Linked DNA regions of Homo sapiens: regions 2 and 3 are each linked to region 1. The links come from fine-mapping of genetic effects on gene expression. A gene starts in region 1. Each other region holds a variant in brackets. All regions are shown on one strand. Distances are between the middles of the regions. Region 1 holds the start of AMN1 (antagonist of mitotic exit network 1 homolog). Region 2 overlaps ETFBKMT (electron transfer flavoprotein subunit beta lysine methyltransferase). Region 3 has its middle 3.9 kb from the start of H3-5.

Evidence for each region. PIP is the estimated chance that this variant, and not a neighbour inherited with it, causes the effect.
Region 2: its variant is fine-mapped to the expression of AMN1 in whole blood (TOPMed, PIP 0.97).
Region 3: its variant is fine-mapped to the expression of AMN1 in whole blood (INTERVAL, PIP above 0.99).

What each region holds. Positions count from the first base shown.
Region 1 is chr12:31,727,617-31,730,379 of GRCh38, forward strand. AMN1 (antagonist of mitotic exit network 1 homolog) reads right to left here and starts at 1,405. Exons shown (of 7, transcript NM_001113402.2): 1 at 1,355-1,405. The coding sequence starts at 1,392. It overlaps AMN1-AS1 (AMN1 antisense RNA 1), which reads left to right and starts at 1,649. Exons shown (of 1, transcript NR_198987.1): 1 at 1,649-2,763. It overlaps LOC105369722 (a long non-coding RNA gene), which reads left to right. Exons shown (of 3, transcript XR_931497.3): 3 at 1,041-1,274. RefSeq lists a silencer at 1,194-1,273 and enhancers at 1,324-1,673, 1,686-2,318, 1,714-1,913.
Region 2 is chr12:31,670,811-31,673,573 of GRCh38, forward strand. ETFBKMT (electron transfer flavoprotein subunit beta lysine methyltransferase) reads left to right here. Exons shown (of 4, transcript NM_001135863.2): 4 at 1-2,304. AMN1 (antagonist of mitotic exit network 1 homolog) reads right to left here. Exons shown (of 7, transcript NM_001113402.2): 7 at 332-1,567. The coding sequence ends at 1,494. Among named protein-coding and RNA genes, the nearest start is that of ETFBKMT, 13 kb to the left of the region's middle. The variant G/C (reference allele first, on the strand shown) is at 1,376.
Region 3 is chr12:31,786,995-31,789,757 of GRCh38, forward strand. No RefSeq gene overlaps it. Among named protein-coding and RNA genes, the nearest start is that of H3-5, 3.9 kb to the right of the region's middle. The variant C/T (reference allele first, on the strand shown) is at 1,683.

The sequences.
Region 1 (2,763 bases):
CCAATGTTCAAAAATAACCCCCTTGACAAAGCTTTCTCCTATTCTTTTCCTTATTAGAAATTTCAAAAGTTTGTTACTCTCCCGCTTGTGATATTATTCTACATATATTATAGTTATTTATTTTATTTTTTTGAGACAGTCTCGCTCTGTCGCCTAGCAGCCTAGGCGTGCAGTGGCGCGATCTCAGCTCACTGCAACCTCTGCCTCCTGGGTTGAGGCGATTCTCCTGCCTCAGCCTCCAGAGTAGCTGGGACTACCGGCGCCACTACTACTCCTGGCTAATTTTTGTATTTTTAGTACATGCCGCGGTTTTGCCGTGCTGGCTAGGCTGGTCTCCAACTCTCCTGATCTCAAGTGCCTCGGCCTCCCAAAGTGCTGGGATTACAGGCGTGAACCACCGTGCCCAGATAATTTTTGTATCTTTAGTAGAGGCGGGGTTTCGCCACGTTGCCCAGGCTGGTCTCGAACTCCTGAGCTCAAGCAGTTCTCCCACCTCGGCCTCCCAAGTTTAATGTAAAATATCAGATGCCATTGTTTCAGAAAGCCTTCAGTAGATTAAGGAGATTGTTCTCCTTATCCTTAAGATGTCTATTTTTTACATGGCAATATTAACGGACTGAAAGCTCCTGGAGAGACGCAATTGCCCTTGTAACTTCCATTTCCGTACAATTTCTGGTAGGAAATAATAATAACAATAACACTTAGTGGTGTTTATTATTTGCTGGGCATCCTTATAAGGGTTTTACATGTTTTAAATTTATCCCTCAGGACAACTCCATGTGATGGGTGCTATTATCACAAAAATTTTATAGATAAAGAACCTAGGCACAGGGAGAGGTTACGTTACCGGTCCATGGTCACGTGGCTGGTGAATGGCAGAGCCGGGGGCTGAACCCAGCAATCTCAGCCAGGGATCCGTGGTCTTAACCACTTTGTTACCTTTATCCCAGGGTCTGTCAATGTTTATTCCAGTTACAGGGGTGGAATTCTGCTAGAAGCTTTTGAGAACCTCATCTAGCGTTGTGTTTTTTTCTACCAAGGCTTTTAGCTGCTAAGAGAGAGGCCACTGCCAGTAACAGCCGGGGCGCCGAGCTGTCAAGGCTGACGGAGGAATGGACGCTCATCGCGCAGCGGAGTGTTGGAGGGGCAAGCCCGCCAAGAGACCCACTTTGCACAACTGTCCTCAGCCAGGAAACGACAGATCAGGAACCCAGGGACAGAAACACACGCGGGGCCTCTTCAGAGGTCGGCGGGGGGGGTGGGAAAGGGGCGGGGAGGAAGAGCAGCGCAGGGCCTGGCCGTTTGGAGGAGGTGCTGGGGCGGCGCGAAGGGAGGCGGGACAGGGTAGACTCACAGATCCAGGAGCTGACTGACCCGCCGTGGGCGAGGCATCGCTGCAGCGTCTGAAGCCTCTTCCGCGGTCCCAGGGCCTCCAGAACCCAGCCAGGGACCGTCCGCCAACTCCCGCCCACCGCGCGACGCGTAGGTTTTTGTGACGTCACACGGATTTTTCCGGTGACCGGGGCGTGGCCACGCTTCGGACTCCACAAGGAAAGAAGAGAGCCCCCTTTGGGGCGGAGCCACTGAGGGCTGCGCGGAAGAGGCTGGGTGTGATAAACTATAAAGAGGCCCTAAACTCGGATGCAACGTGACGGGAGTTGTAGTTCTTTCACCTGGCGGGCGTCTGCTCCGGTTCAGCTGCAGGAGGTTTCTTGGGAGTTCAGCCCAGCGCGCAGCCCCGCCGCGACGCCGCGAGCCGAGAACTCTCCTGGGGCGAAGGGAGCGCTGAGAAGTCGCTACTCTTACTAAAAGGATGCGTTGGATGCTGGGCCATACCCTTGGCGATGCACACTGGAGACCCGCTCGGATACGGACTCCATTAACATCAAACGGAGCGTGTTAGAGGATCCGAGTTTACTGAGCACTTTCTAGGAAGCGTGCACTGAGCTACGTGCTTTCTAGGCCTTAGTTCAATACTTAACCATATTCATTATAATCCGGTGAAATCGTAATTATTTAGCCTTATTTTACAGATGAGGACACTGCGTACCAACAAGTAACCTCACTAAGAATTTCGTCATGGAGGAGAAGGGAACCTGTATTCAAATTAGGAAGGATCCTGAAGAAAGGGCACCTTTAGGTGGAATTTTATCTTTGGTTCTGCTGCAGAGTACTTGCTGCTTTTTAGTGCTCCCTCCACCCCCCTCATTCTTCCTTGTAGATTAGTCTGTTGTTTGTATGCTGAGTTCCTTTTTTAAGCTCCTTGAAAGTTGGAACCCACTGCTGTTGCCTGTTCAGGATGCTACACATTGAATCAACATGGATTTATTAAGCGCTGAACGAGGGCTAGGGATCGTGCTGGGTGCTGAGGATTGAGTGGCGAACACTTGGGTCAGACAAGTAAAAGGGCAATTAGAATAACTGTTAAATGCTTAGATGGGGTTAGTTCTATGGAAGCACCCATGGGGGTGGGATACAGATCAGAGAGAAAAGGGTGGTCTGCAAATAGTTTGGGATGGCTACACTGGAGAGTGATCAAGAGTGAGTGTAGGGCAGGGGTTGGCCGACTTTTTCCATAAAGTGCTCTGAAAGTTGCAGATTCCAGGAGAAGTAACTATTGTCAGACCCAGACAAATTGGAGCCTAGAGACCAGAAAGGAAGGAAACTCATGCTTGTATGTCTGAGATAAGAACTGTCTCAAGGCCAGACGCGGTGGCTCACACCTGTAATCCTAGTACTTTGGGAGGCCGAGGCGGGCGGATC
Region 2 (2,763 bases), 57 kb before region 1:
ACAGCAATGAAAAAAAAAGATAAATACTTTGTCCTTATGAAATTTGTATTCTAGAGTAGGGAGACATAATGAACAAATGAAAACAGGCATCAGATGGTGATAGGTAGTAAGGAGAAAAAGAAGTAAGGGTAATAGGGAATACTGGGTACTGGATGGGGTACAGATATTTTAAACAGAGTGGTGAGAAATAGTTAATACAGCTAGCAACATAAAAAAGGAGAAATATCAAACTGCAAACTGTTTTAGGAAGATAAATCCTTCATAGACCCAAAGAAGCTCACAATTTAGATGTCGAAACTAGTTTCTGCAAAAAGGGGAAAATGTGATTGACTTGGTTAAATATTCAGTATTAAATTTTATTGAATTTGTCTTTAGAAAAATTTCATAGTTAGAACAGGCCTTACCCATTTTGCACATATATACATATGCACCACCTTTGCAGTGGCAACATATATATCCACACTATAAACATACCACATTTATAAATCTTGTAAGGACAAGAAATGGAGTTGAATAAGTACCCCCCAACATATACAAGAAAGTTAGCATACTTACCCCGTTTTTCACTACATCAGAGGCAAAATAAGAAATCTTTTAAGAAAATCTCAAGACTGGCTCATGGCAAAATGAATATGCTAAATTTGGGGGTTGGTTTAAGCGTGGTATGTGTCAGGTAATTTTGTGATTACCAAAAAGTTTTCACTTGAAAACTAAGACCTTTGCTGTTTATTTCACAATGTGAAATCAATAAACCTGAGGATACAAGTCTCTGTAGTGATATTCTGTATTTACTCATTTTTACACATTTTTGAATGCAATTTTGCTAAGGAAGGAAAGCTTACAGATGCATAAAATGTAACTGGGAAGAGTAGCCATAAAAATCAATGAATGGATGTGGCTGGGCAAGAGCCTCTGTAATACTAATACGCTGAATGGCTAATAAGTCACTTCATTTCGGTGAAACAAATACCTAAATTCTTTGAAGAATTAACAGGCTTGATGTTCAGGTCTGCTTTTGGCAAATGGGCATTTAAATACTCCAAGAAGGTAAGAGCCAGAAAATAGGAAGGTAACTATGCTTTTAGAAATATGTTTACTTAGATTCTCCCAAGGTTTATACTTACAGGTAAACTTAGAACAATAGCTCAAATACCTACATAGGAGAAGGAAATCTCAAGGGAAAACAGTTAATTTTAAAGTTATTTAAGAAACAGAATCCAACACCATAGATCAGAGTTCATGCTAGGATTATCATTTCAAAAATAATGACTCATCCAACAGATATAGAATAATAGCACTTTAAAGATGTTTAAGAGTAAAGCACAAACCATGTATATACCAAGACTTAGCTAATTCTCTGAGAGTTATAACTTAA[G/C]ACAATAAAATAATTAAAAATAGTGTTAACATTAAGTAGAATGCAAATCTCTATAGATGGTTTCCTGGGAAAGTAGTTTTGATAAGCTTTCCTAGCATTGATCATCTTCAAAAAAGCATCAATAAACAGTCCATGTCACTTGCTTTAGTTTGTTTGGGCCTACTAATTGCTCCAACACTTCTCGGGAATGATCTATAAAAGAAAACAATGACAATATATTAATTGACAATAAAAAATGTTTAATGTTTCCTCATGTCTAACTGGAGGTGATGTTAATTATTATACAGTTATTTAAAGGATTAAAGGAGGTGATCTATAAAGCACAATATACAACTAACTCACTAATAATTAATTAATGGTAGCCCTCACTATTATTAGGTGTAGTGCACCTATCATGGTATTACTTGTTTAAAAAAAAAAAACAGGCATTTGTTGTTTTCTCTGTAATTTCATCATAATTCCACCAACCAGAGTAATGGTCTAATTTCACCATTAACCTGTGTTAATGGTTAATAACTTTTTTCAGGATCTTAGCCGGAAATAGATGATTCACTAAAGTGGGGTGACTGAACAGCATTTAATGAAGGGAATATTTACCAAAAAAGTAGGATTAAAGAAAGCCAATAGGTACGGTAAACCACCTTGGGAAGCTGCAACACACCCAAAGGGTTAAAGGAGGTAGTAGTCACCGAACGTGACAAGTTGACCTGTAGCTGAACATTTTTCCATGTCTGTATAATACTACTATAAAGCATGATTTTAAATAGATAACCATTATATAAATACACTGTAATTTAACCAATCTATATTATTGGACATTTAGATGTTTTCAGTTTTTCACAATGTACAGTCGTGATTTTGATATGGTTTCCATCCTAGTTTTAGGATGTCTTTTAAAAATCTGAATTAAAGCAAAAATACTGATAAAATTTTGTTAGTTTAAATATTACTCATAAGTTTAATAAACTTGTTTCCATAGATACAACCTATGTTTTATGTACAACATATCTCTAACCTAGTCTTGGAAATCCTGTAATTTGGTGGTTCCTAGACAGATTTCACAGACCAGTAGAAAAAAAAAAAAAGATGGGCCCAACATATACAGTGACAAAATTTTATTTTAAGTTTAACAAAATTAAGCAAAAATACCAAGGTTTATTGCCAGCAAGAGAACCAGAGAGTGTATAGAAATGAAAAGTTATTATCATTGGGAAAACAAAGGTTTACAATTTTTTAAAAAAGCAGCTAGTAAGATAAATGCAGTTTTATTCATGGTCATAAAAATATTATTGGTTATTGTAGAGGAAATCTCAATCAAAGATAGATTCAAATTATGTTGAAAGTAAAAGAATGGACAAAGACATACCATTTAAATGGCAACCATGACA
Region 3 (2,763 bases), 59 kb after region 1:
TTTTGCTTAAATCTTTATGTTCTTGGCAAAAGCTTAGATAGGCTTTAAGCTATGAATACAACTTGGGAAGGGCTAACAGCTAATTCCAAAAAAAGAGGCCGGGCGCAGTGGCTCACACCTGTAATCCCAGCGTCTTGGGAAGCCGAGGAGGGTAGATCACGAGATCAGAAGTTCAAGACCAGCCTGGCAGAGATGGTGAAACCCCATCTCTACTAAAAATACAAAAATTAGCTGGGCATGGTGGCAGGTGCCTGTAATCCCAGCTACTTGGGAGGCTGAGGCACAGAATTGCTTGAACCCGGGGGGTGGAGGTTGCAGTGAGCCAAGATCACGCCACTGCACTCCAGCCTGGGCGACAGAGCGAGACTCCATCTCAAAAAAAAAAAAAAAGGAAAACCATCTTTTCTAAAAATCATTAAAACAATTGAAGTTAGTTTTTGAATAAGAAAATAATGCCTAAAACAAATCTGTATCACTAGGCAACATTAAATCTTTATCTCCTCGAGATTACAAGGACTTTCTATTTAGTACACAAGGACCAATTTTTCCAAAACCAAAAAGCCAAGCCTGTTAGCACTTACTGTCACAAATGGTTACCACAAAAACAAAATAATGAAGGTTGAATTTATGGTTTCTGTAAAAGGGAAGCCTCTAGGATCTTTAAAAGTATTTTTTTCTATTTTTAAATATAACATTCATTGTAGAAAGTTTGGAAACATAGTACAAGGAAGAAAATTTTTATAACTTACAATCACATTGCTGAGGATAACATTTTGTTAATGTTTTTGCATAGTTTTTTTTCCAATTTTTGTCTTCCTCTTGTCTGCTTTTTTCTCACATTTTTTTTATTATGAGCAGTGCCATAGCATTACATAAGCTTTTTTCTTTTCTTTTTTTTTTTTTGAGACAGAGTCTCACTCTGTCACCCAGTCTGGAGTGCAGTGGCACAATCTCGGCTCACTGCAAGCTCCGCCGCCTGGGTTCACGCCATTCTCCCGCCTCAGCCTCCCGAGTAGCTGGGACTACAGGTGCCCGCCACCACATCCGGCTAATTTTTTGTATTTTTAGTAGAGATGGGATTTCACTGTGTTAGCCAGGATGGTCCCGATCTCCTGACCTCATGATCCGCCCACCTCGGCCTCCCAAAGTGCTGGGATTACAGAGGTGAGCCACTGCTCCCAGCGCTTTTTTCTTTTTTTTTAAGATGGTGTCTCACTTTATTGCCCAGGCTGGAGTGTAGTGGCTCGATCTCTGCTCACTGCAGCCTCTGCCTCCCAGGTTCAAGTGATTCTCCTGCCTCAGCCTCCCCAGTAGCTAGGATTACAGGCGCCCACTACCAAGCCTGGCTAATTTTTGTATTTTTAGTAGAGATAAGGTTTCGCCATGTTGGCCAGGTTGGTCTCGAACTCCTGACCTCAAGTGATCCGCCTGCCTCAGCCTCCCAACATGCGTGAGCCACCGTGCCCGGCCAGCATTACATAAGCTTTCAAAACATGATTTTTACTATCCTATCCTAAAAGTTTTTTTTTTTTTTTTTTTTTTTTGAGACTGAGTCTCACTCTGTTGACCAGGCTGGAGTGCAGTGGTGCGATCTTGGCTCACTACAAGCTCCGCCTCATGAGTTCACACCATTCTACTGCCTTGGCCTCCCGAGTAGCTGGGACTACAGGCATCCGCCACCA[C/T]GCCCAGCTGATTTTTTGTGTTTTTGGTAGAGACGGGGTTTCACCATGTTAGCCAGGATGGTCTCCATCTCCTGACCTCATGATCTGCCTGCCTCGGCCTCCCAAAGTGCCGGGATTACAGGCGTGAGCCACCACACCCGGTCAAAAGATTATTTTTTAATCTGAAATTATTTCCAAGGTAAATATTTTTCTTCCAGGTATTTTCCTAAGGACCCAAGTTCAAAACCTTGCATTACTCTGGTCTCCCTTTCTTTTTTTTTTTTTTTTGTCTTATGAGAAATCAAGTCTGAATTGATTTGGTTCAGAATCAAACCTGAATCTGATCACTAAATTCTACTAATTCTTTTCTTTCTATGTCTATCCACATAGTTCTGGCCCGGCCAGGCCCCTGTTTCCTCAGCCCAGATTATTGAAGTACTTTTCTGACTTTTTTATTTCTTTGTAGCCTCTTTTCTCTATGGTAATCTATTTTACATATCTCTTTGCATCATTACCTTGACAAAAATATTGACTGCCTCTACCTTATATGGCAGAGGTCCCAAACTTGAGCTCCAAGGCTGAACATAGTCTGCAAATTTGTTTTTCTACAACTCCACAGTGCTCTGACCATTATTTTTAAATTTGCTGGAATCCTTTCAAAGGGCCCCAGGTTTCACTGATTTGTGTTACCTGCCTGGCGTCTAGGCTTCCAGGTATGGCTGAGTAGACTTTGCTTTTTTTTTTTTTTTTTTTTCTGAGACAGAGTCTTGCTCTGTCTCCCAGGCTGGAGTGCAATGGCACGATCTCGGCTCACTGCAACCTCCACCTCCTGGGTTCAAACGATTCTCCTGCCTCAGCCTCCTGAGTAGCTGGGATGACAGGCGCATGCCACCACGCCCAGCTAATTTTTGTATTTTAGTAGAGATGGGGTTTCACCATGTTGGCCAGGCTGGTCTCGAACTCCTGACCTTGTGATCTGCCTGCCTCGGCCTCCCAAAGTGCTGGGATTGCAGGCGAGAGCCACCACGTCCAGCCGACTTTGCATTTTATAACTCCAGAGGGCACTGTGCACATAACATAAAAAGTTGTGCAGTGCACAGCC